Linked DNA regions of Homo sapiens. The protein of the gene in region 4 interacts with the protein of the main gene of each other region in a biochemical or structural test. Each region holds a gene or a part of one and is shown on either strand. Other genes may lie near its edges. The genes, in order: RFFL, USP28, UBTD2 and USP5.

Region 1 (5,648 bases), on a different chromosome or scaffold from region 4:
CCTCCAGCTCCTCTAGGGGTGTAAAGACTGTGAGGGCTCAAATACATCACCTACTCATTGCATGGTCCTTCCTAAAGAGCCTAGAAAATGGTTTCTCCTGCTGGGTGTGGTGGCTCACGCCTGTAATCCCAGCACTTTGGGAAGCTGAGGCGGGCGGATCATAAGGTCAAGAGTTCAAGACCAGCCTGGTGAACATGGTAAAACCCCGTCTCTACTAAAAATACAAAAATTAGCCTGGTGTGGTGGTGGGCGCCTATAATCCCAGCTACTCTGGAGGCTAAGGCAGGAGAATAGCTTGAACCTGGGAGGTGGAGGTTGCAGTAAGCCAAGACTGTACCACTGCACTCCAGCCTGGGCAACAGAGTGAGACTCAAAAAAAAAAAAAAAATGCTTTCTCCCTGACCTGCCCCCAAAAATCAGTGGGCTAGGAAAGGGAATGAAAGTAGGGTCTCCTCACTCCCCACCAACCTGGGAAATAAAGACTTGAACTGTCGGCTTACAACAGAATCCAGTCTCATTCAGTACCTCCTGAAAGCTCTTAAGTGCTCTGTCTTAACATTTGCTCTCCAGGAACTTCAACAGCAGTCTGGCCAGAGAAGAGCACAGGCTCTTTGCCTAAATCTATTTCTTCAATGAAACCAAATTTAAAACTACCATGGATAAGGGAGGGATTTCATTTTCAGCGAAAAGTGGCTTAAGACTTCTAGTTGGGAAAAGGATCAGAAGCCAAGCCAAAATTAAGGAGAAGGCCACTGCCTCCACCCATTGCTTCCCCTTTCCGCATAAACTAAGGATGGTGCAAATCAGGTCCCAAGAGAAGCAGCAGCAGGGATTATGCACGCACTATCCCTTGCAGACAGAAACAAATTTCCCAGCAGTTTGGGAGCCTGATGTTTTGTTGGCTCCCAGAGTCAGGTCAGGAGACCAACAGCTTCCAATCCCAGCATTTAATGAAGTGGCTTTTAACAACTTTGAAATTTTTCTATAGCATTTGTATTTCATTTCTCACCAAAGATAAGTTTACTGGTCTAAAATCTGTCCTAAGGACCACTATCGGTCTGGTAAACTAACATTTTTGGTCCAAAGAAACAAATGGATTTAGGCAATGTAGCAAGAGACTTTAGCAAAGATAGTTAAAGCACAGAAAGCCGGAGAGACCAGAAATTTAAATCCGAATGTGCTGGGGAGGAGGACTTCTGATTGATGAAACACATGGGCAAGCATCTCCCATATGGGGTGGGGATGGGTTGGGTACAGGAGGAGGGGTGAAACTGTCTAGGTTCAGGGAGGAAGACAGGACCCAAGTTCTGGAAAGTTCTCTGTTCATCAGTTACCATCATCACTCCAAGATCACTGAACCAAGAACATACCCATGTGATTTATACAAGTTCCCACTGGCCTTGGGCTTTGCCAGCCAAGAGGTACACCCCTGGGAAGACAGGCATGCTCAGGGGTGACATGGCATCTTGCTTGACCTGGTTTTGGGAACCCTGCAATATTTCTACTAGCTTGCTCCTCTGCAAGCTGGCCAACCCTGAGCCCAGACACCCCAGGCTATTTCCCTGTAAGGCACTGAAGAAACCGATGCAAGCTCTCAGGACCGGAAGACATGCACAGCTCGGATTACATACTGCCGGCAGATGGGACATTCATTCATGCGCTTGCCACACTTGGTACAGGTTACCATGTGGCCACACTCCAGAAGAACACAGTCAATGGGTGAGTCCATGCAGATCTTACACAGGTTCTCCTCCAAGCCTGATGGTACTGCTCCCCCTGTACAAACACACAGGGCAGAAAAAAAGGGGCAGAGGAGTGAGGAGAATGTCTTAAGTGTATAGGGGTGACTGGGGGAGGGAGGTGGGAGATAACAGGTACATTGTAAACAAAGTCTCAGTGCACATGCTTCCCTCAAATAGAGCTCCTCCGAGGAAACATTTCCTCAATAACCAACTCTGGTTACTTGTTTAATCCACACTTCATCCCCTCCAACAGGTAAAGATTTGAAAAGTACACAGCACTTGTGGATCAGACACATCCCAGAACATGAGAACTAAGGCAAAGTTCTCAAAGCTTAAAAGAAATAATTTTCAGACTGTTGGGGCTGTAATATAGTGAGTGTGTGAGTGGCACGTAGGGACTCATTATCCCCTGAGGCAGAACAGGCTAAAAAGATAAAACTGGTTCAGAAAAGTTTAGATAGAAATGGAACTGTGATGAATGGTTCATTAAGGATCACAAGGCTTTATCTATAAACATATCCTCCATTTAATAAAGTCAGGGATCATGGGGGACCCCTCTGCTATCTCACAAACTACTCCCAGGTTTCCTGAGGAAACTTCCTGGTGGAGAAACTTGGCAGAGATTACTGCTCCCTCTTTCTACCCCCACAAAACTTTTTTATACCCCCATGACTGCTTATCACATTGGATTAAAATTTTGAGTTTGCCTACTTACTCCCAGAGTAGACTATGAGCTCTTTAATTCAACATATTCAATCAATTTTTACAATTATATGCTTAGCATTTATTCCATGCTCCAAGGTTAGATATTCATCTTTGAAGCCCCCAATGCCAGTTATATGGTAGGTACTCTAAATGTCTGATGAATGAACATCTTCCCAAGGGAATGACAACATCCCACATTTACTGAATGCTTACCGTGTGCCAGGCAGGGTCCTGAAAGCTTTGCATGTGTTAACTCACTGAAGCCTCACAAAAACTATAAAGTAGGACCTCTTGTTATTTTCATTTTATAGATGAGGCCAACTGGGGCAAAAAAGTTAAGTGGCTTGCCCAAGGGCACAAAGCTGCTAAGTCGAGGAGCCAGGATTCAAACCCAGGCAGGCTGGCCCCACAGCTCCTGCTCTAGAATGGCCTTCTGCCTAACTGCCCTAAGAGTAGAAACTATCCAGACAGTATCAACTGCTGAGTGCACAGGGTTCTCAATAAATGCTAACTGGCTTGTGTCACTAGCAGAATATAGTGGGCATGACCAGTATCCTAGTAGAGCTGACCCAAACAGAAAAAATAATGTTCAAAAGCCCAGCCATCTCCAATATGTCTTAAATTGTAGCCTGAAGTAGGTACCCATAAAAAGGAACTGATCTCACAGAAGTCACCTCTACCATCTGGGGGTTGGCCAACCCATAGAGGAATTCTCCCTTATTGCATCTATACTTTCTCTTTTCTGGACTATTAAAAAGTCAAGAAATACTTCCCCCTAGGAGGTAGGCTGGGTGTGAAAGGGAGTGAAACCCATTTGCCTCTTTTGAGGTGCTGTTGGTCCTAACAGAGGTTTGGAGACTATACAAATACCTAAGATGAATGGGAATAATTTATAATTTTCAGTTACTCATTCTCTCAGAAGTAACAACAAACACATTAACTCAGTTGTCAGCATTCTCCCAGGGAATCAGAAAAAGAAAGGAAGCACCAAGTAGATCAGCCTGATCTTGGTACCGGTGATGCTGGGGGGTTGGAGGGTGGAGGTGGGTCTAGAACTCCAAATGGTTTTGGGGAATTGAGAAAAGCTCAACTGTTTTTTATGTCTGATTAGAAGTAATCAGACATAAAATTGCCCATTCTGAGCAAAAGGCCATTTTACTAAATAAATTTGGGAAATCTTCTGAAATAAGTTTTAAAATGCTGCAGGCTAGTCCAACACTACTCTTAGAACGTTCTCTCTTGGAAGGGAGTTCACAACCATATACCCTTGAGGCTTTTGAAAACACATAGCATATTTTAGAATGTCCCCACAGATGGTCAGGAGTTCTGCAGTGTGTTCTGGGAGTACCTGAGGGCCCAGTGGTGGTCTTTAAGTGAGTGGCAGCTGAGCTGAGATATATAGCTTGTGCCCAGAGAGTAGCACATGTGTTAGCTCCAGAGTAGCTCTAACCATTACCAGCCCTGTACAAACAGGGCTGTCTCAGGTCACCACCCTTTCTTTTTGGTTAGTACCAGAAGCTGCTAAACACCCTGATTCCCCAGAAGGTGTACACAGAGACCCTCCCTACCCAGACCAGAACTGAAAACACCAAGATTTTAAAAAATGAGCTGAGTGTGATACATGCCACCCCTCCTCTGTTTCAGTGTTTTACAAATGTTGGCTTATGAGCTCAGGTAGCCCAGGGACATGCACATCAGTCAGTCCGCCCCTACGTATGCTCCACTCTGCTTCCTGCACAGCGAGCAGAGAGAATTTCTAAAGATGGTGAGAGGCCCCCTGGGTCTCAGTGAGTTTCCCACACACCCTCTCTCTGGGGGCTCAAATGCTCAGAATTCTTAGATTACTAAAGGGATTGGGGTTGAAGGAGGGGAAGGACAAAAGGGCCTAAGCCCATTCCCAAACAGAAACAACTACATACCGTTTTGGTCTTCGGCACCACTGACTGAAAAGGAAAGAGAAGGATGTCTGAATAGGTAAGGCATGATGGTACAAATACAGTCTCTTACTGCCCTGACATCATTTCTGAACTCTTACCACTCCCTGCTGGGAACCAGGCTTGCCAAGAGCCTAGATGGACATCTGCCCTCTACTCGCTCTACATGCTCAGAACTCACACAAAGCTCCTACTCGTGCATCTGGTCTACTTTTATTTTTTATTTTTTTGAGATGGAGCCTCACTCTCTTGCCCAGGCTGGAGTGCAGTGGCATGATCTTGGCTCACTGCAACCTCTTTCTCATGGGTTCAAGCGATTCTCCTGCCTCGGCCTCCTGAGTACCTGGGGACTACAGGCACATGCCACCACTCCCGGCTAATTTTTTGTTTTTGGTGGAGATGGTGTTTCACCATGTTGCCTATGCTGGTCTTGAACTCCTGATCTCAAGTGATCCACCTGCCTCAGCCTCCCAGAGTGCTGGGATTACAGGCATAAGCCAACACACCCAGCCTGGTCTACTCTTAGGAAAAGGTATTCCACCAGTTTGCACAAACTGCCAAGTAGAAGGATACTGTATATGTGCAATATCCTTTTCTATTTTGAAGTCAGCATTAAAGTCAAGAAAGAATGAACTATCTAGCTGTTTCAGTCAGTCAGAGAATCTGGATAAAGTTCCCACGTGGAGTCATCTGTTCTGTTCCCCAGGTCCTGACGACTGGAGAGAAGACTCTTGAAACAATCCCAAAGGGAAAACAGACTCCATGTCAGTAGGCCTCAGTCTGTAATCGGGTGAAGAGTCAGTCAGATGACCCCTAACACTGATGAATTTGAGCTACTGGTAGAAGAGAGCCTGAAACCTGACTTCAACCACTCTTACCAAGCAAGGAATCAGTATGTTGCTCTGTAGGAACCAAATCAACTGGGGATGGGAGGAAAGGAGAAGATTCTGTGGTGAAATAATTTCAGGAAATGCTAAGTTCAAAACAGCCAAAACACATTTCTCTTCTGCAGGACTTCTCTGCCTTTAATATAAAAATCTACCATAAATCAGTAATGAAGATATGAGGTATTTTTCCCTAAACTCATTTAACCACAGACCCAGATATTTTCCTGGGCATCTCCTGAATGATACAGTGTAAAATGCTCTGGGAAATGAACAAAAGGAAGAGCCCAAGTGCAGATGGAACAGCTATCTTCTCCTGCCATGTATGTAGATTCACTTTCTACCTCCCAAATCTTCAGAACAAGCATTCTTATTCTAAGGTA
Region 2 (5,648 bases), on a different chromosome or scaffold from region 4:
CAATGTGTCTTGAAGACTACATAAGAAACCTAACATTGTGTACTTGTTGGGAGTGGGACCCATGGTCAAGGAAGAAAGTAGTAAAGCAAACTTGTTTTTCCTTTTCATTTCCTTTTATACTGTCTATATTTTTTAAATCTATTATTATATAATAGTAAGTTGTAAATTTTTTAAAAAGCAGTACAAGACTGTTCTTCTCCCTGAGCAGTACAGATTTTCCCCAATCTATAGATTCTGCCAAGATACTTTTACCTGCATTGAAGTAGGGTAGTTTGTCATTAATGTACATCAGACAGTAAGCACTAACATTTCTCAGGCCTCCATAGGAATCTCTTTCAACTTCTTCCCAGGAAGATTCAGTAACAGAGATGTCATTGTACTTGAGCCAGCTCTGTCGGGGTTGATTATAGATATAGGCCCAATAGTGTCCAGCATTTGCTTGTCCTTCATGAACAAGAACTGCATGCAAGCGATAAGGCACCTGTAAGTCAGAATGTACATTCCCCAGTCAGGTGAAGCAAAGTAATCTGATAAAGTTTAGGTTATTAAGAAATTACTGTTTATGATGTGATTAATGTGGGGTTCATATTAAAACATCTTGTTGATTCAAGATGAAGTCCACAAAAACACAGCCTTGGAATTGATCAATTATGTCTCAGTTCCAAAACCTTGAAAACCAGATCGCTGAACTACATGACCTCTCTGAAGACTCTTTCAACTCTAAACTCCTCAGATCTAAAACCAAACATAACCTAAACATATGCATCCTTCTAATTCAAAACTCTGTTTATCTAAAAATAGAATCACCTTGACCACTCATGCTGAAAATGCTTAGCATATTTGGGACCTACAAAGGTTAGCAGCTATTTTGTTCCATGCCTATTTTATTTGGCAACAAAATTTAAGTTAACATATTTAATTCAGCCACATGCTTCTTAGAGTTAAGTGACCACTTATCTATCTGGAGTGAAGACCCTTTTAATGACATACTTGTTTGTTACAACATTTGAAAAGCACATTTGTGTATTTTCAATATAGAGAAAATAGAGCAATGCTTAAATGCTAACTAAATACTAGTAAAAGAGATGAAAGTCAGTCACAGAATCAAATTAAATTTACACTTACTTTGACCTATTTTAATTACTGGTGAAGATTTTTGAATTAACACAAAAGAAAAAATGGGGAAGCCTGCGTTTTACATGGTGCATTCCTGTTAAGCAATGGGACTGTGCCTCAATGCCATTCTAGAAACAGGGCTCCCCTCCTCCAAGCCATTCTGCCCATTCCAGTCATTCATACAGAAGCCACTGAAAGTCCATGCCCCTAACCAGAATAGGTTCAGAGACACTCCTGGAGGCTCTTTACCCCTCCATTCCCAGAATTTATTCTAACAAACACTTCTGTGGATAGTTAAGAATTTCTGTCCTAACTCTCTTTTGGAATTTATTATTACAGAAATAAAGCTTGAACGCATGTTGTTAAATTAAAGATCTTGAAGAATCATGGAACTTTGGGAAAGAAAGGATAACTGTTCTCTAGTTCAGTTTTTCCCACTGCACTACTTAAAGTACCATTTTGTAAGTAATTTTTATTAGTATCTGACAGCAAACCTTTCTACAATATGAAAAAATTCCATGTGGCAGAATTCAAACAAGTATGTGTTAGGTCCTGTTTTTGGTAAAAGGTATATTGCTTTCTTTAGCCTAAAATAAAGAAACAGAACAACATCAATTTATATCTTAAGTTTATTCTTTTATCTTAGGGGGATTCCCATTGGGTTTAAAAGAAAACTATCAAATTTGATTTTTGTATCTACCATTAGCACATGCCTTGACTACTTTCCCATCAATTTTCATTCTACCTGACGAAGGAGAGGATCGCAGTACATCTGTTCAATAGTCTGAGTAGTACTTGCAATACAAGTCTTTAAATCTGTTTGGAAAAAGAAAAACAAAAGCTTCACTAAAATGATCTCATTCTATGTCACACAGGCTACTTTAACTAAGCAAAGAATATTGCTAGGGTCCTAATGATTTCAGCTTCCCTCTATGAACCACGAAGCAATATACAGTTTTAAAGCAGCTAGTACTTTAGGTTATGAAAGCTTTTAGTTCAATATAATTACATTAAGGTTTTAAAACATTATTTTTTATAATTGCCAAAATTTCTTAAAGAGTAAGCTGTTTAGGAAAAGATCTTAATGGGTCACTTGGCTGTAAAATGTATGCCTCAGACAGGATCTGAAATGAGAAAGCAGAACAAAGGGTAAGGCTAAATTTCTCTGAATAGGAATCTGGGAAGAATCTGTATTTTCCATCATCTTTTTGTTCCCTAGACAAAAGGAGACAGGAAGGGGGGTAAGGTTAGTCTGAGCAATATGGGCAATGAGGTCAAAGGGCTTTTTAAGAATACAATGCTGAATAATCCAATTTTACATTGTGCATACTGCTCAAATACCTCATTAACCTTCAGTAAAGCATGCTTCCTATAGAAAAGACTGAAGAGTAGAAGTCCAGAAAAGCTAAATGCTAAATCTGGGTCAACTTAAGCTGGAGTTCAGATAATCTACCACAGAAACAGAAATCAGTTGATGCAGAAAAATCTCAGCAAAGGTGATCATTTCCCAGAAATTTTGAGGGGGAGATCTTTCCATATCTGTATAATGGGGGTGTGTGAGCCAAGTTTACAGGGCACTAAAAGTGCAAAAGAAGTCACAATTACCATGTCAAAATTCAAAAGCATGGGCCAGACGTAGTGGCTCACACCTATAATCCCAGCACTTTGGGAGGCCAAGGCAGGCAGATCAGTTTTGGTCAGGAGTTTAAGACCAGCCTGACCAACATGGTGAAACCCCATCTCTACTAAAAAAAAAAAAAAAATCAGCCAGGTGTGGTGGTACATGCCTATAATCCCAGCTACTTGGGAGGCTGAGCCATGAAAATCGCCTGAACCCGGAAGGCGGAGGTTTCAGTGAGCTGAGATTGCACCACTGCACTCCAGCCTGGGTGATAGAGTGAGACTCCATCTCGGCGGGGGGGAAATTCTGTAGCATGTACAGTAATGTCAGGAAGTGTACCGAGGTGCTTAACCTCCAAATAGTCAAAAAACAGAAAAAGCAAAGAGTAACTGACAAATTTTAAAAGAGCCAACCTTGTATATCTTGTTCAATCTCACTCCTCCATCTCTGAAGACAGGTCTTAACAAAATTTATCTCCTCATCTGTGACTGTTCGTGGAGCTGGCTGTGAAGGCATTTCCATGGAAGACCGAGAAGATGTCAGTGGTTTAGACTTGGGTAAAGAATCTTCAGGAGAAGAAAAGGTACTTTCAACATCCTGAGAAGAGCTTTCTGTACTTGTACTGAGGAAGACAAAAATCATGCTCATATGATAATTTCCAAAAGATACCTTGGCCTAAATTATGTACTTTGGAAAGCAAGATGCTATATGAAAAAGTACAGGTATTCAGTGAGCATTAACTCTATAAAGGTACAGAGCCAACCTTTTTCTCTATCATCTCACGTACCACAACTGGCCTGTGAGGTAGATACTTTTCTATCCCTATTTTACCAACTGTGAGCCTAAGGTTTAAATAAATTAAGCAACATGCCCAAGTTCACCAAGCTGGAAGGTAATGAAAATGAATCCAAAGCCAGATCGGCCAGTCTTTAGCTCATGTTCTCTGATCACTGATTATTCCTTCCCATGAGGATGGGAAGAGAAGGAAAATGGAAAAGAGAAGACTAGGCCTGGAAGAATCAAGGAATCAACTACAGAGTTTACAAGATGAAGCCAACTAAAGTGACACTATCCTTCCTGGAACAAAATACACAGAAGGAAGAAAAAGGAAGCATCAGCTGAACATACAACTCACAGGAATACACACTAGGTGACACCTTGGAGAGTTCTGAGAGAAGGGCTTCAAGTCAAACAATCCTAGCTCTACTACTTTAGCTAAATACCCAAGGAAAAAAGTATTAATATCTCATCTACAAAATATAAATCTTAAGTTCTTTACGTCTTTTCTGTAAACTAACAGAGAATAAAGCATATCAAGTAAATGTTAATTTCTCTATTGTCAGAGTAAAACTGCAGGTCAACAAACCAGCAGGAATATAAAATAAGCTTCTAATTGTAGTTAGGTTTCTCTTTTACACCAAAGCTGAAGAATATAAACTTCCTTTACTTTGACTTAAAAAAAAACTCTCACTCCTGCCGGGTACGGTGGCTCACGCCTGTAATCCCAGCACTTTGGGAGGCTAAGGAGGGCAAATTACCAGGTCAAGAGATCGAGACCACCCTGGCCAACATGGTGAAACCCCATCTCTACTAAAAATACAAAACTCAGCTGGGCATGGTGGCACGCCTGTAGTCCCAGCTACTTGGGAGGCTGAGGCAGGAGAATCGCTTGAACCCAGAAGGCGGAGGTTGCAGTGAGCTGAGATCATGCCACTGTACTCCAGCCTGGCGACAGAGTGAGACTCCATCTCAAAAAAACAAACAAACAAACAAACAAAAAAACCTCACTCCCTCCTCCTCACTCTCTCACATGCACAAAATAATGGAGGAAATCTCTTTTCCCTAAGGTCCATACTTATGGAAAAATAAGCCCAACAAGGGAACAGATATCTCAATTTCAGAGGAGATTACACACATACACCTCCCTGTAATTTTTAAATCTAATACCAAGCACTATTATTTTATTTGATTAAATAGCCTGCCGAACCACTTTTTAAAAATTAAAACTTTACATTTCATAATATACATAAAAAGATTCTATTTTTACAAAAATTAAAAAATTTAAGTAGAATATAAAAAGTGAAAGAGCAGCCCCACTCCTATCCCCAGACTCATGTCACTCCTTAGAGATAATCATTCTTGACATTTGGTATGTTCTATCCAAATAAGCATTTCTATGCATACATGGATGAATAAATATTAATACGTGGGGCGGTGGCGGGGGATGTGTTGGGGAGAATAGTTAAGATTTTTTGACAAAAAAGTCTAACTTTTTATTGAGTATTAGTGTTTTTATTAGCCAGGTAACACATATCAAATGTCCTAGCTACCTTTCATGGCTCCTCTAGGCAATAAAGATTGTTGCACATGACTGGATGGAATAAAATCAGAGGGCTCCTGTGACTTTGCCTCCCTCTGCCTTTACTAGAGAAGCCCCTCTAAGCTGTCCTCTTATTTCTAGCCAGTTCTTTTTCAAGTACTAATTTTCTATTCAAGAATAAGTCTCTCTTTCCTTGATGTTTCTTAGTCATGCATACTTCAAGTGTGTGAGCATGAGATGTTTTGGAAGAGCAGGGCTTGAGGTTTCCTCTGAGAAAGGCCTTTAATGGCAGCTGGCTTGTAGTTCAAAACAAGGCATCACTGGGTGGAGCCTGAACACTATCCTGAACAGTTTGAGAAGCCTCTGAAATAACCCAACCATTCTACGGATAAGACAAATGCACTGGTGGGCCCACTCCCACCCAAGTGACAGTCAGCAAAACCCTTCCCTTTAAGACAAAGAGCTCACAGCTCCTGTGCTCTTATAGGTGACTGTCAATCAAGTACAAAGATGGTGCATAGTTTAAATTATACCAGAAAAACAATACATACCATTAAAAAAAAAATGTTTTCATTACCTTTCCTTGGATGT
Region 3 (5,648 bases), on a different chromosome or scaffold from region 4:
CCCTGGGCCAATGAGGGAGTAGTCAATTTCATGGATGCTTTAGAACCAGTTTGAGAGTGATTTCTTTAAAATTGGTATTCTTTCTGCAATTAAATATAGAACATTGAATTTTGACACACACCCTCTCTCCTTCCCACTCGCTGTGTCATTTATTTCCCACCCACTCTTTTCCAACACTCTTCTTATCTTTTCATCCAGCTTCAATTTTCTTTCTATCTTCTATCCCATCTATCAAACTATTCCCTATCTATAGCACTGTATAATCTTACAGAGCCATAAATAAGAATGGCTCTGTAGGTCAGTATGACCCATGGAAATAGATCACAGATAATACACCAGATGGTTATCTGGGTGCAAGGATGCTGCATCAGGCTTATTCCAGCGCTACTACTACATAACATTGTCTAAGGGGAGATGCTGCCACTTGCCCTCTGTTTTCTTCTTCTCTTGGGTTGAAACTAGGGTAGGGTATCATAGTTCTTCTGCTCCTTGTGGTTCGGAGCTAATCCCTTGGCCTAGCATCAAAGATTATCTCTTTTACTCCCAGTTCCTCAAAAAAACTAAAGTACTGATTCTACCCTTTGTAAATTAGTTCCTGTTTGAGTTCCAGAGAAAGGTATTTACAGTTCCTTGACTAAAGTCCAGAGAGTAGAATGCTAGAGGAAGCATTCCTCTAATCAGTTTGTTCATGATTCTGGTGGTTTGGCTCTTCTTTCTCTGGGCACTGAAAAGCAATCTTTTACCTCTTTGGATTTTCTCAGTTCCTACTTCCTGGTTTCATGTGTCCAAGCTACTATTGCCGTTTGCTTCCCCAAGTATCTTGCCTCTCTTTCGTGGTGTCTCTTGACTCTCATATCCTGCTCTTACAGTCTGATGAAACACTTACCTTCTAGGCAGTTCTTTTAAAATGAACAAAACAAAACTTTCATTGTATTAAAAAAAAATTTTTTTAGAGCAGTTTTAGATTCATAACAGAATTGAGAGGAAGGTACAGAGATTTCCTATGTACTCCCAGTGCCTACACATACATAGCCTCCTTTCCCTGATTATCAGCATCCTCCACCAGAGTGGTACATTCATTACAACTATAATTCTCTGGGGTTCTTTAGTTTTGTTTTGTTTTGTTTGAGATGAGGTTTCACTCTCGCCCAGGCTGAAGTGCAGTGGCATGATCATGGCTCACTGCAAACACAACCTCCCAGGCTCAAGTGATCCTCCCACCTCAGCCTCCCAAGTAGCTGGGACCACAGGCACATGCCAACATGCCAGGCTAATTTTTGTGTATTTTGTAGAGATGGGGGTCTCACCATGTTGCCCAGGCTAGTCTCGAACTCCTGGATTCAAGCCTTCCTTCCACCTCAGCCTCCCAAAGTGCTGGGATTACAGGTGTTGAGCTACTGCACTCAGCCTGTAATTCTTTTTAATGATCCTGTGGAGGGTGTACTGAGTGGAAAAGAGCTACCAATTTGTTTTGCATAGAGCAGTCTAATGTCTCTATTCACTTTTGTAGTTCCAAAATGTGTTAGAGGAATTTCAGGATGCACAAATTAGCTAGCAGGTAAATTTCTGGCTGTGATTTTGATGAAATAATCCAAGAGAGGAATGACCAGATAACTTTTGATACATATTTTATAAATTTTGGGTTTGATCTCAGTCTTTTATTTTTCTTTTCAGTTGCTCTAGGTCGTAACCAGCCTTTGAAAAAGGAGAAACCAAAATGGAAAAGCGATTATCCTATGACAGATGGACAACTACGCAGCAAGAGGGATGAATTTTGGGATACAGCACCAGCTTTTGAAGGCCGGAAAGAGATTTGGGATGCCTTGAAGGCTGCTGCACATGCTTTTGAGAGCAATGATCATGAACTGGCACAAGCAATCATTGATGGTGCAAACATAACATTACCACATGGTAGGTTTGGTGTTCCTCAAGGACAGAGGAAACATAATCAACTTTGTTTCTGATAGCAAGAAACCAAATGGGAGAGTGTTTTTCCTTGCTATGAATTATTCTAACTTTTTTTTTTAATGTAGCAAGGAATAGCATTCCTCTTTTTTTCTTGTACATCTTTCAGCTGGAGACAGGTTTTACTTTGTGTGTTTGTGTATACGTATATATTTTTTAAATATATCTTAATTTCAGAAAAGAACTCTTGATCATCTAAAAAGTTTCCGTGTAACCTAGTCCTCCATGAAGACCTCTTCCCTCCACCCTCCCACCCCCACCTCACCAGCCTCATCACCCTGCCAATCTATTGGAGCTTCCACTTCACTGGTTTCCTCCTAGCAGCGCTAGAGATAGAGTCTCAGTTTAGATTTTGTAAGCTGTAGAGACTCAGAGGATGCTCCTTTTAGTCATTATACTTTCTCATCAAGCCTATTTTTGGCATAATAAGCAAACCCAAACTTAGAAGAGAGTCCCGCATGTTTTTAAGGACAGTTTTCCATGATTGTAGCCCTGAGCATTCTTAGGAACTTCTCTCTTTTGCGTAGGAATGTGACTCTTTTAAGGATAACTGTAAGCTTTGAATGTTTCTGGGGATACACATATGCTGGTCCATGTACATACTCTTGTTTGGTCTCCTTGATGAGAAACATAGAATTTTTCATGCTACATTGAGATTTAGGTGTTAATTTTGTATTTACATTTTTTATTTCTGTATTAATATTCTCAGTATTCTCTTTAGTTTTTCAACTTAATATTTTTCAAGGTTGTCTTTTCAGATTTATGTAATAACCACCTTGCATTGATTCTATTCATTATTGTACCTTCATTGTTTTAATCCCTAGTACGTCCCTTTATCTACATTCTTAGAGGAACAGGGACTTTCATTGTTGAACCATCTGCTTTATGTCCTTTCACTGTATGTCACATGAAAGATTTTTATTTTATTCTATTCTTTCTCTCTCTCTTTTTTGAGACAGAGTCTTGCTCTGTCGCCCAGCAGGCTGGAGTGCAGTGGTGCACTCAGCTCACTGCAACCTCCGCCTCCTAGGTTCAAGTGATTCTCGTGCCTCAGCTTCCCCACCATGCCTGGCTAATTTTTGTATTTTTAGTAGAGACAGGGTTTCACCATGTTGGCTAGGCTGGTCTCAGCTCCTGACCTCAGGTGATCCGCCCGCCTCAGCCTCCCAAAGTCCCTTTTTTTAAGAGACAGGTCTCACTCTGTCATCCAGGCCAGAATGTGGTGGCACGATGACAGCTCATTGCAGCCTCGACCTCCCAGGCTCAAGAGATCCTCCCACCTCAGCTTCTCAAGTACCTGGTACTACAGGCACGCATCACCATGCCTGGCTACTTTTTTTTTGTTTTTTTGTTTTGTTTTGTTTTGTTTTTGGAGAGGCATGGTCTCACTATGTTGCCCAGATGATCTCGAACTCCTGGGTTCAAGCAATCCTCCTGCCTTGGCCTCCCAAAGTGCTGAGGTTATAAGCATGAGCTGCTGTGCCTGTCCAAAAGATACTTAACTTACTATATCCTTGCCAGATTCCAAATCACCATTAGTTTTCTGATTAATTGTGCTTCCAAGAAACATTCCTTTTTTTTATAGCTGCCTGTTCTTTATTATGAAAGTTTATTAGCATAGTCTTCTGTTACTAATGTTATTGAGCACCCACTGATCACTTTTTCTATACATGTATAAAAGTGATCCCTCCTACATTTGAAGAATTTATAATAGAATGCCATTTTCAGTGTGACTTTTTTTTTTTTTTTTTATGACAGTGAGTCTTTTTCTTTTGGTAACTTATTTTATTTTTTTGAGACAGGGTCTCACTCTGTTGCCCAGGCTGGAGTGCAGTGGCATGATCTTGGCTTACTGTAACCTCCACCTCCCAGGTTCAAGCAATTTTCATGCCTCAGCCTCCCAAGTAGCTGGGATTACAGGCATGTGCCACCAGGCCCAGCTAATTTTTGTATTTTTTTGGTAGAGACAGGGTTTCGCCATGTTGGCCAAGCTGGTCTCGAACTCCTGGCCTCAAGCTATCTGCCTGCCTTGGCCTTCTAAAGTGCTGGGATTACAGGCGTGAACCACTGCACCTGGCCTCAGTATGACTCTTTAGTCTCAGTTTTCATGGATAGTCTCTAAATTCTTTACTTTTATGTGATTGTGGGTTGGGAGGTGGTGGGCATCATCTTAGTCCATTTACCTTTTTCAGTTTTGTAATTATCGTCTTCACATACCACCTTTATATAATATAACGGGAAGGAGTCTTCCTTTACAGATAGTTTTATCATCCTTCTCTTTTTGATGTCCATATCCTCTGTTTTTCAAGGAAAATATATGTTTTATAGACCTGTATGTGGGTGGAAGAAGAGTCATGTATGTGTGATTGTGTGAGATCCAGAATGTTGGAACTTTGAATTTCTTATTTTGTACTTATAATTACCTACTGGAATACCTGGTTGCATTCTGTATATTGTAGCCTTGTTTAAAACTTCATGGAGCCAAAATAATTCTGTTGCATGTAAGGCTGGGCCTCATGCATATCCTACTGGATGTGGGCTCAGATCACTAAAGACCGAAGTCCCTCATTTCTGCTTCTCTGTGGAAAATGTTCCCGGCAGCCCTGCCTACCAGCAGATCAGGGAGAATTACTCTCAGAAATTCAAGAATTATTAGATGACCCTCTATTTGCCTTCTATGTTTAAGGAATATTTTCTCCTTAAGCATGGAATAATCAAGCCAATATCTGAGCCTTTCTCTTTCAAAACTCTGTGATAACATTCTGGGTGTTAATATTGTCACTGATGCCCTTGATTGACTTCTTTTGTTCATATCTGAATCTTGTCAATATTTCTTGGACCTTATAATTTTGTTTTGTCATGTACTCTAACTCACCATCAGTTTATAACTAGGCTATTGTATGCTTTTACCTAGACTGGCTTAGTGGTATTGCCGAAATTCTTTCCATCTTTTTTGTGTAATTACATGTTTGAGATTTTACTTTGGGCCAGGTGCAGTGGCTTACGCCTGTAATCCCAGCACTTTGGGAGGCCGAGGCGGGCAGATCATGAGGTCAGGAGATCGAGACCATCCCGGCTAACACGGTGAAACCCCGTCTCTACTAAAAATACAAAGGATTAGCCAGGCCTTGTGGCAGGCGCCTATAGTCCCAGCTACTCAGGAGGCTGAGGTAGGAGAATGGCATGAACCTGGGAGGCGGAGCTTGCAGTGAGCCAAGATCGCGTCACTGCACTCTAGCCTGAGCGACAGAGCAAGACTCCGTCTCAAAAAAAAAAAAAAAATAAGGAAAAAAATAAATTTTACGTTGGGCACATTGTGTTGTACTACCCCTTAAATATCCCAAAGCACTTTATATTTTAAGTTTAAATTATTACATAGACTTGACTATTATTTAGTTCAGCCTTCGATATCAGTTCTGGTCTTACTTCTGTCCCTACCGTATTACTTGCAGCTATGTGACTTTGGGCAAATCACATCTTCTGTAAGCTTCAATTCTCTCATATGTAAAATATGGATAATAACTGTCTTACCTCTTGGGATGGTTATGTTGATTAAATGTAATAATAATACATGTAAGTTGCTGATCAGAGTGCTCGGTATCCAAAAAGCACTTAATAAATAGTAGTGCTGATGATCTTATTTCCTGAACTCTGAAATTAACAAGTAAATTCCCTGTTCCCTG
Region 4 (5,648 bases):
GCCTGGGAGTTGGGAGGCCAGGATGCTGGTCCTAGATCTACCATAAATAATCTATGGACAGGGCAGGGGGCCTAGAACTTGTGAGACAGAATGATTTTATATTCCTGTGAGTCTCAACTTCCTTATCTAGAAAATGAAGGTACATCACGAGTTCTCAAATGACAGTCAGGGACCTGTAAGACTCACGAGAATTAATTGTTTCAAGATTATCAAAATGAAAACATTTTACCAATTATTTTAAAAAACTACAAAAATCACTTTTGGTTGTAAATCATACCTATAACAATCAAAGAAGTCTTTTAATATTTTTAGTTAGTGCTTTCAAACTAGATAAATTTTGAAACATTGAAGGTGATTTTTTTTCCTCTTTCAGAGGAAACTTTGAGAAACACTAGTTTATATGTGTTAAAGCCCCTTCTTTTTCTAGCATTTTCTGTGTAACCTCCCTCATTCCAGCAGCCATACCCAGTTTCTTGGGCACCCAGTCTAAGCCGAAGGTGAACTTCTTGATCTGGATGACCAGGTAGTCAGGGAATGAGGCAAATCGTGTGGTCCTAGGGAAGAGAGACTGTGCTGGTACCCAGACAATCCCCAGGGTTTTCCTCTCCTGAAACTCCCACCTGGGGTTCAGCCCCTCATGGGTAGAAGTCCCAATAACCCAGAAGATCCTCCATATTCTTCTCTTCCCCTGGGCAGGTGTCTGATGCCTGTCCTCGGCCAACGAGGAGCAGTAGAGGCCAGAAGGAAGGCTGTCAACAAAAAAAAGAAAAAGAAAAAAGCCCAGGCATGGTGGCTCATATCTGTAATTCCAGCACTTTGGGAGGCCAAGGCAGGACGACTGCTTGAGCCCAGGAGTTAAGAGACCAACCTGGGCAACATAGCAAGACCCACACGTAGGGAAAAAAACATAGCAAGACCCACACATAGAAAAAAAAAAAAAACCCACACAGAGAGGAAGAGCTGTTTCACTGGCAGGAGCAGCAAAGGGCTGGGTAGCTGACTCCCCGAGACCAAAGCCCTTTTTCAGGTCTCACACCCATGCCAGGTGCCAATGGCTAGGCTCAAAGTGTGGCTATTTGCTGGAAATCCAAATTCTGCCCACAGCTGATCCTAAGTGCCTGTGCTCAGCCATGACTGAGGGGCAATGAAGAGAGGCTACACTACAAAGAGACCCTGTGCCACAGAAGAGGGAGTGGTTGGGGCAGGACAAGGTGACAGATAGAGTCAGTACCCGTGTCCCCCCTACCAGGGCCCCTTGGTTCCATCAGGGCCAGATTACCAGCCCAACTGATTCAACCCTGAGGTTCCAACCACAAAGGGATGAAAGAACAGGGAAGAGACAGAAGTATCCTCTGGGATAGCTCTGCCATAGACCCACAGCCTCAGGCCCCGACCAGAGGACTTACTTGACAGCTACTGACTTGGCCTGCAGGGCCGTGCTCCAGAAGTCATCGACCTGCTCAGGGGCCCCGTAGGCCTCCAGGCAAGAGCTGAAGGGCACCTGGGCCCGAACCAGTTCTGGCAGTGCCATCTTCTCCTCTTCGGCTTGCCGCTTCTTCTCCTCGTACTCCAGAAGCTCCTCTGGTGACAGAATGGGTTGGTGGATCCTTCGGAGGGTGCTGCTTCTTTGCCTCCTTAGCCTCTCCCTACTGGCTCTGTGTCCGTATTTCAGTTCCTCTACCCTTCCAAAGCACCCCTGACACATGTCCAATATATCTCGCCTGTTTCCATGCAGCTCTGCTAACAAGCTGAGTGTCCACTGGACGAGGTTAATCTACCTACTCCTGGTGGCCCAGACTGGAACCTTGGCTGGTGAAGCAGGGCATTCCCTGGGCTGTGCTCCCATGAGGTGCCCAAGCATTCCTCCTAGACCTTAGCCTCCCACCGTGCCACGGCCTTGCTGATGGAGCAGCCTACCTTTGTTAAGGGCTGCATCCATGGGCACAGGCAGCTGCATGATGTAGTCAACTCGCTGGGTGTACTTCACCTTCTCTGTGGCCAGGCACTTGATCTTTTCCTCCACCAAGAAGCGGAACACTTCATTAGGATTTTCAGAGCTCCGGCAATTCCTCTATGGGAAAGAGGCAGGGTAGGGAGGTCTGGGCAGCCAGGGAACAGAATGGGGCCTGAAAGGTTCATGGGAGAGTCAGGGAGAGAAGGCAGACTACCACTCGGAACTCAGGGACACAAGAGCAGAGCAGAAACCTTCCCTAATTCACCAACCCCTCCCCATTTCTGGCCCCATCCCTGCACTGAGGGACTGTGTTAGAACACGCTTGTATTTTTCTTTATAAGCAGCAAGTATTCTCTTATCATTGTCTTTGGGCATAATCTGAATTGGGCTTCAAGCCCATCAAGGGTAGGGATCATCACCTTCACTGTCCTCCTCAGGTGCAAGCACTGTTCACAGGGACACAGACTGTTGGGGTTCAGGGATGGGACTGGGTTGGGGCTGATAGAGGGAGAAATGGGCAGGAAGGAGAGCGAGTAAATTGCAGGAAGATGGGGGTGTGCCATCTTGCCAGCCCTTACCTCCACCATGTTGATAAGGTGAAGGAAGAACTCCTGGGCATCCTGCTGCCGGTTGGTGGAGAATTCAGGGTGGCCCTTGCCGATGAGGGCCTTGAACATCCGAGGGGCAATGCCATCTTGAACTTCCTGGGAAGAGTCAGGGCAGGGACTCAGCTGGGGCTCAGTGGCCATCCAGGGGCCTTCTTTAGACATCTCCCAGACCTCAGCTTCCCCACAATCCCAGGGCCTGAAAGGGACAGGGTCCTAGACGCACCTTCTGTTCTGGCACCCGCTCCCCATCGCCCGACTCCGGTACTGGCTTGGAATACTCCCCGGAGAGAAGGCCATGGCCCAGCTTGGCCCTGCATTAATATCCAAGAAAACATTTCACTTCAGTCAACTAACGACCCTGTGTGTCCCCAGCTCAACCCCCTGCTCGTGGCTCTCCCTAGCTAACTCTCAACAACGTGAAAAACCTTAGATTCTACAGGAACCCAGCTCAAGACAGACAACACGTCCAGAAGACAGTCACCCGAATGCTCCTAATAGGCCAGTGGTGGCCGTGCACGGTGGCTCACGCCTGTAATCCCAGCACTTTGGGAGGCCGAGGTGGGCAGACCACGAGGTCAGGAGATCGAGACCATCCTGGCCAACATGATGAAACCCCGTCTCTACTAAAAATACAAAAAAAATTTAGCTGGGCGTGGTGGCATGTGCCTGTAGTCCTAGCTACTCAGGAGACTGAGGCAGGAGAATCACTTGAACCCAGGAGGCAGAGGTTGTAGTGAGCCGAGATCGCGCCACTGCACTCCAGCCTGGCAACAGAACAAGACTCCGTCTCAAAAAACAAAACAAAACAAAACAAAAAAAGGCCAGGGGTTAAAGTGCTGTGCCCCCCAGGCGGTCAGGGAGGAGGAAGGTATACGGCCATGACTGTCAACAGCTTTCCTACATAGGACCTGGTTACATACACCTGGGTGCTGAAATCCTGGGTAGGGTCCGTCGGGGCATTCTGGAAGATCTTCTCCAGCTTATCCACATACCTAAAAGTCAAGGGAAGGACAGTTGGAGGGGCTCTGGCCTGAGCGCCGAGGAAAAGGGAAGGAAGCAAACATTTACTAACTCTGTGAACGGGCTCCCCTCAAGAGTGGGGAGTTGCTGTGGGTGAACCTTGGAGTCGCTTCTCTCCAGCAACCTGCCTGTTCTCCCCTTCTCAGCTATGTCCAATGTGCAAGCACGCTCGGCGGCAGAGGAGCCGGGGAGGGGGAAGGTAGCCTGGGATTAGGATAAGTGCAGTTCACGTTCTATTGGACAGAACCTGTTGACATGTTCTGAGCATTCACATTCTAATTGTTCCCCAAATTCGAAAGTAAACTCATTTCTGCTGAGAACCTGCCTTTATTCTTAGTGTGCCAAGCCCCCCTCCTCCCCAAGTGCTACATGTCCATGTTAGGTGCTCATCTGATGTCACTGCCCTAAAATAAAGACCACCTGCTAACCCTTGAGTCTGTCAGAAGGCCACAGAGCCCTGGGACTTGGCACTCTGCACTATCAGTGGGGTTTGTGTGTTGGGGTGCTGGTGGTGCAGCTCCCTAACTTGCTCCCCTCACAGCATGTCAGCCAGAGTGTGACAGGAATTATTCTTTTTTTTTTTTAAGAGAAGACAGGGTCTCGCTATGTTGCCCAGGCTGGTCTCAACCTCCTGGGCTCAAGCAATTCTCCCATCTTGGCCTCCCGAAGTACTGGGATTACGGGTGTGGGCCAACACACCCAGCCGATAGGAACTACTCTAAGACTAGAATCAAACACAGAGGTGCTGAGGGAAGCTGAAGGAGGAGTATGCCCAGAGGGTGCTGACCAGGAGGGGGCCTGGGGAAGGAGAGGGCACTACTCACTTCCTCTGGAAGTCAGGGATGCTGAAGAGCACCTGGACCACAGAGTTGAGGTAGCAGCTGTTACCCAGGTTCCGGATGCCTGTGTAGCCAGGCCCAAACAGGGGCTTGAGTGGCACACCTGACTCCTGGATCAGCTCCCATTCACCAATCCGCTGGTTCATGTCTATCTCCAACTCAGTCATCGTCTTGTCTGTCTGTGTGAGAAGGGGCACTTCAGACTGAGTGAGAAACTCAACCCTGTAGTTTTTACCTCGATCTCTCACTGAGTCTAGGATGATACTCAACTGTGGCCTAGAATTTGTGGAATTACAGGCTCAAACATGGGAGGTATGTTGAGTATCGTCCAGTTCAAGTTCTGGAAGGCCACACATAATTGTCCCAGAGGCCCGTTAGTCATCAGGGCCTCTGCTTGAATGAGGAATAAAATTTCCTTCTACCTGAAATGTTTTTCCCATCCTTAAGTTACCCCTAACCTCCTTCACATTGTCAGTTAAGCATCGCTTCCTCAGGGAAATGTCCCTGATCCCTAAACTAGGCCAGGCCACCCTGCTGTCAATTACTGTAGTACCCTCCGCCTCTCTTTCACAGTGCCCACCAGTTTGCAACTATTCACTTATTTATCTGGGAATGTGACTAATGTCTGCCTTTTCTTCTAGAGTAGAACTCTTGTAAGCAAAAACCACATCTGTCTTATTCACACAGCCTCTAGCACATAGTAGGTACTCAGTACTATTCACTGAATAAATGATTTTAGATATTTAAAAGAAGCCTGTGTATCTTGGGGATGGGGTTAACTAGAAGATTTCTCCAAAACCCTACCTCAGCCTCAGGCAAAGAGGAAGGGCCCTCACAGGGGCAGGAAGTAGAAGAATCTGAAGTTGAAGGGGGTCTCACCTTCTGCATCTTCAGCATGTCGATGCCGAAGTGGGACAGGTGCTCAGCCAGGCTGGGGTCCAGGACCATGTCATCCTCATCATATGAGTACACGTCTAGAGCAGGAGGCAGGAAGAGAATCAGGGGAAGTGGCTCAGGACTAGCCAGGCCACCATCCCATCCCTTGCACAGAAGGGACTTGAGGGGACAGAAGGAGAGCCAGTAAGGTCCACCCTCTTGGTTCCCTTGAATATGAGTAATATGAGTGCGGTCATGGCCCTTCTGGGGCTGACGGTCAGGGAAGACAGATGAAACCGGGTGAGGGTTGGAATTACTTGTGATTCTGATTCTACCTGTATAGGATAAGGT

The links.
Region 1: of the proteins of USP5 (region 4) and RFFL, one has a biochemical effect on the other in vitro, tested with the Homo sapiens proteins (one large-scale study listed by BioGRID).
Region 2: of the proteins of USP5 (region 4) and USP28, one has a biochemical effect on the other in vitro, tested with the Homo sapiens proteins (one large-scale study listed by BioGRID).
Region 3: the proteins of USP5 (region 4) and UBTD2 are reported together in a solved structure, tested with the Homo sapiens proteins (one study listed by BioGRID).

What each region holds. Positions count from the first base shown.
Region 1 is NC_000017.11:35,010,374-35,016,021, forward strand, and holds part of RFFL (E3 ubiquitin-protein ligase rififylin), read right to left. Parts: intron 4,391-5,648; coding exon 4,367-4,390; intron 1,777-4,366; coding exon 1,595-1,776; 3' UTR 1-1,594.
Region 2 is NC_000011.10:113,812,024-113,817,671, forward strand, and holds part of USP28 (ubiquitin carboxyl-terminal hydrolase 28), read right to left. Parts: coding exon 5,635-5,648; intron 3,360-5,634; coding exon 3,151-3,359; intron 1,933-3,150; coding exon 1,862-1,932; coding exon of another isoform or gene 1,853-1,861; exon of another isoform or gene 1,732-1,852; intron 482-1,731; coding exon 253-481; intron 1-252. UniProt on the Homo sapiens protein: Deubiquitinase involved in DNA damage response checkpoint and MYC proto-oncogene stability. Involved in DNA damage induced apoptosis by specifically deubiquitinating proteins of the DNA damage pathway such as CLSPN.
Region 3 is NC_000005.10:172,230,385-172,236,032, reverse strand, and holds part of UBTD2 (ubiquitin domain-containing protein 2), read left to right. Parts: intron 1-1,674; coding exon 1,675-1,911; intron 1,912-5,648.
Region 4 is NC_000012.12:6,857,376-6,863,023, reverse strand, and holds part of USP5 (ubiquitin carboxyl-terminal hydrolase 5), read right to left. Parts: intron 5,396-5,648; coding exon 5,301-5,395; intron 4,601-5,300; coding exon 4,407-4,600; intron 3,555-4,406; coding exon 3,483-3,554; intron 2,874-3,482; coding exon 2,786-2,873; intron 2,659-2,785; coding exon 2,533-2,658; intron 2,072-2,532; coding exon 1,918-2,071; intron 1,582-1,917; coding exon 1,407-1,581; intron 555-1,406; coding exon 466-554; intron 1-465. UniProt on the Homo sapiens protein: Deubiquitinating enzyme that participates in a wide range of cellular processes by specifically cleaving isopeptide bonds between ubiquitin and substrate proteins or ubiquitin itself.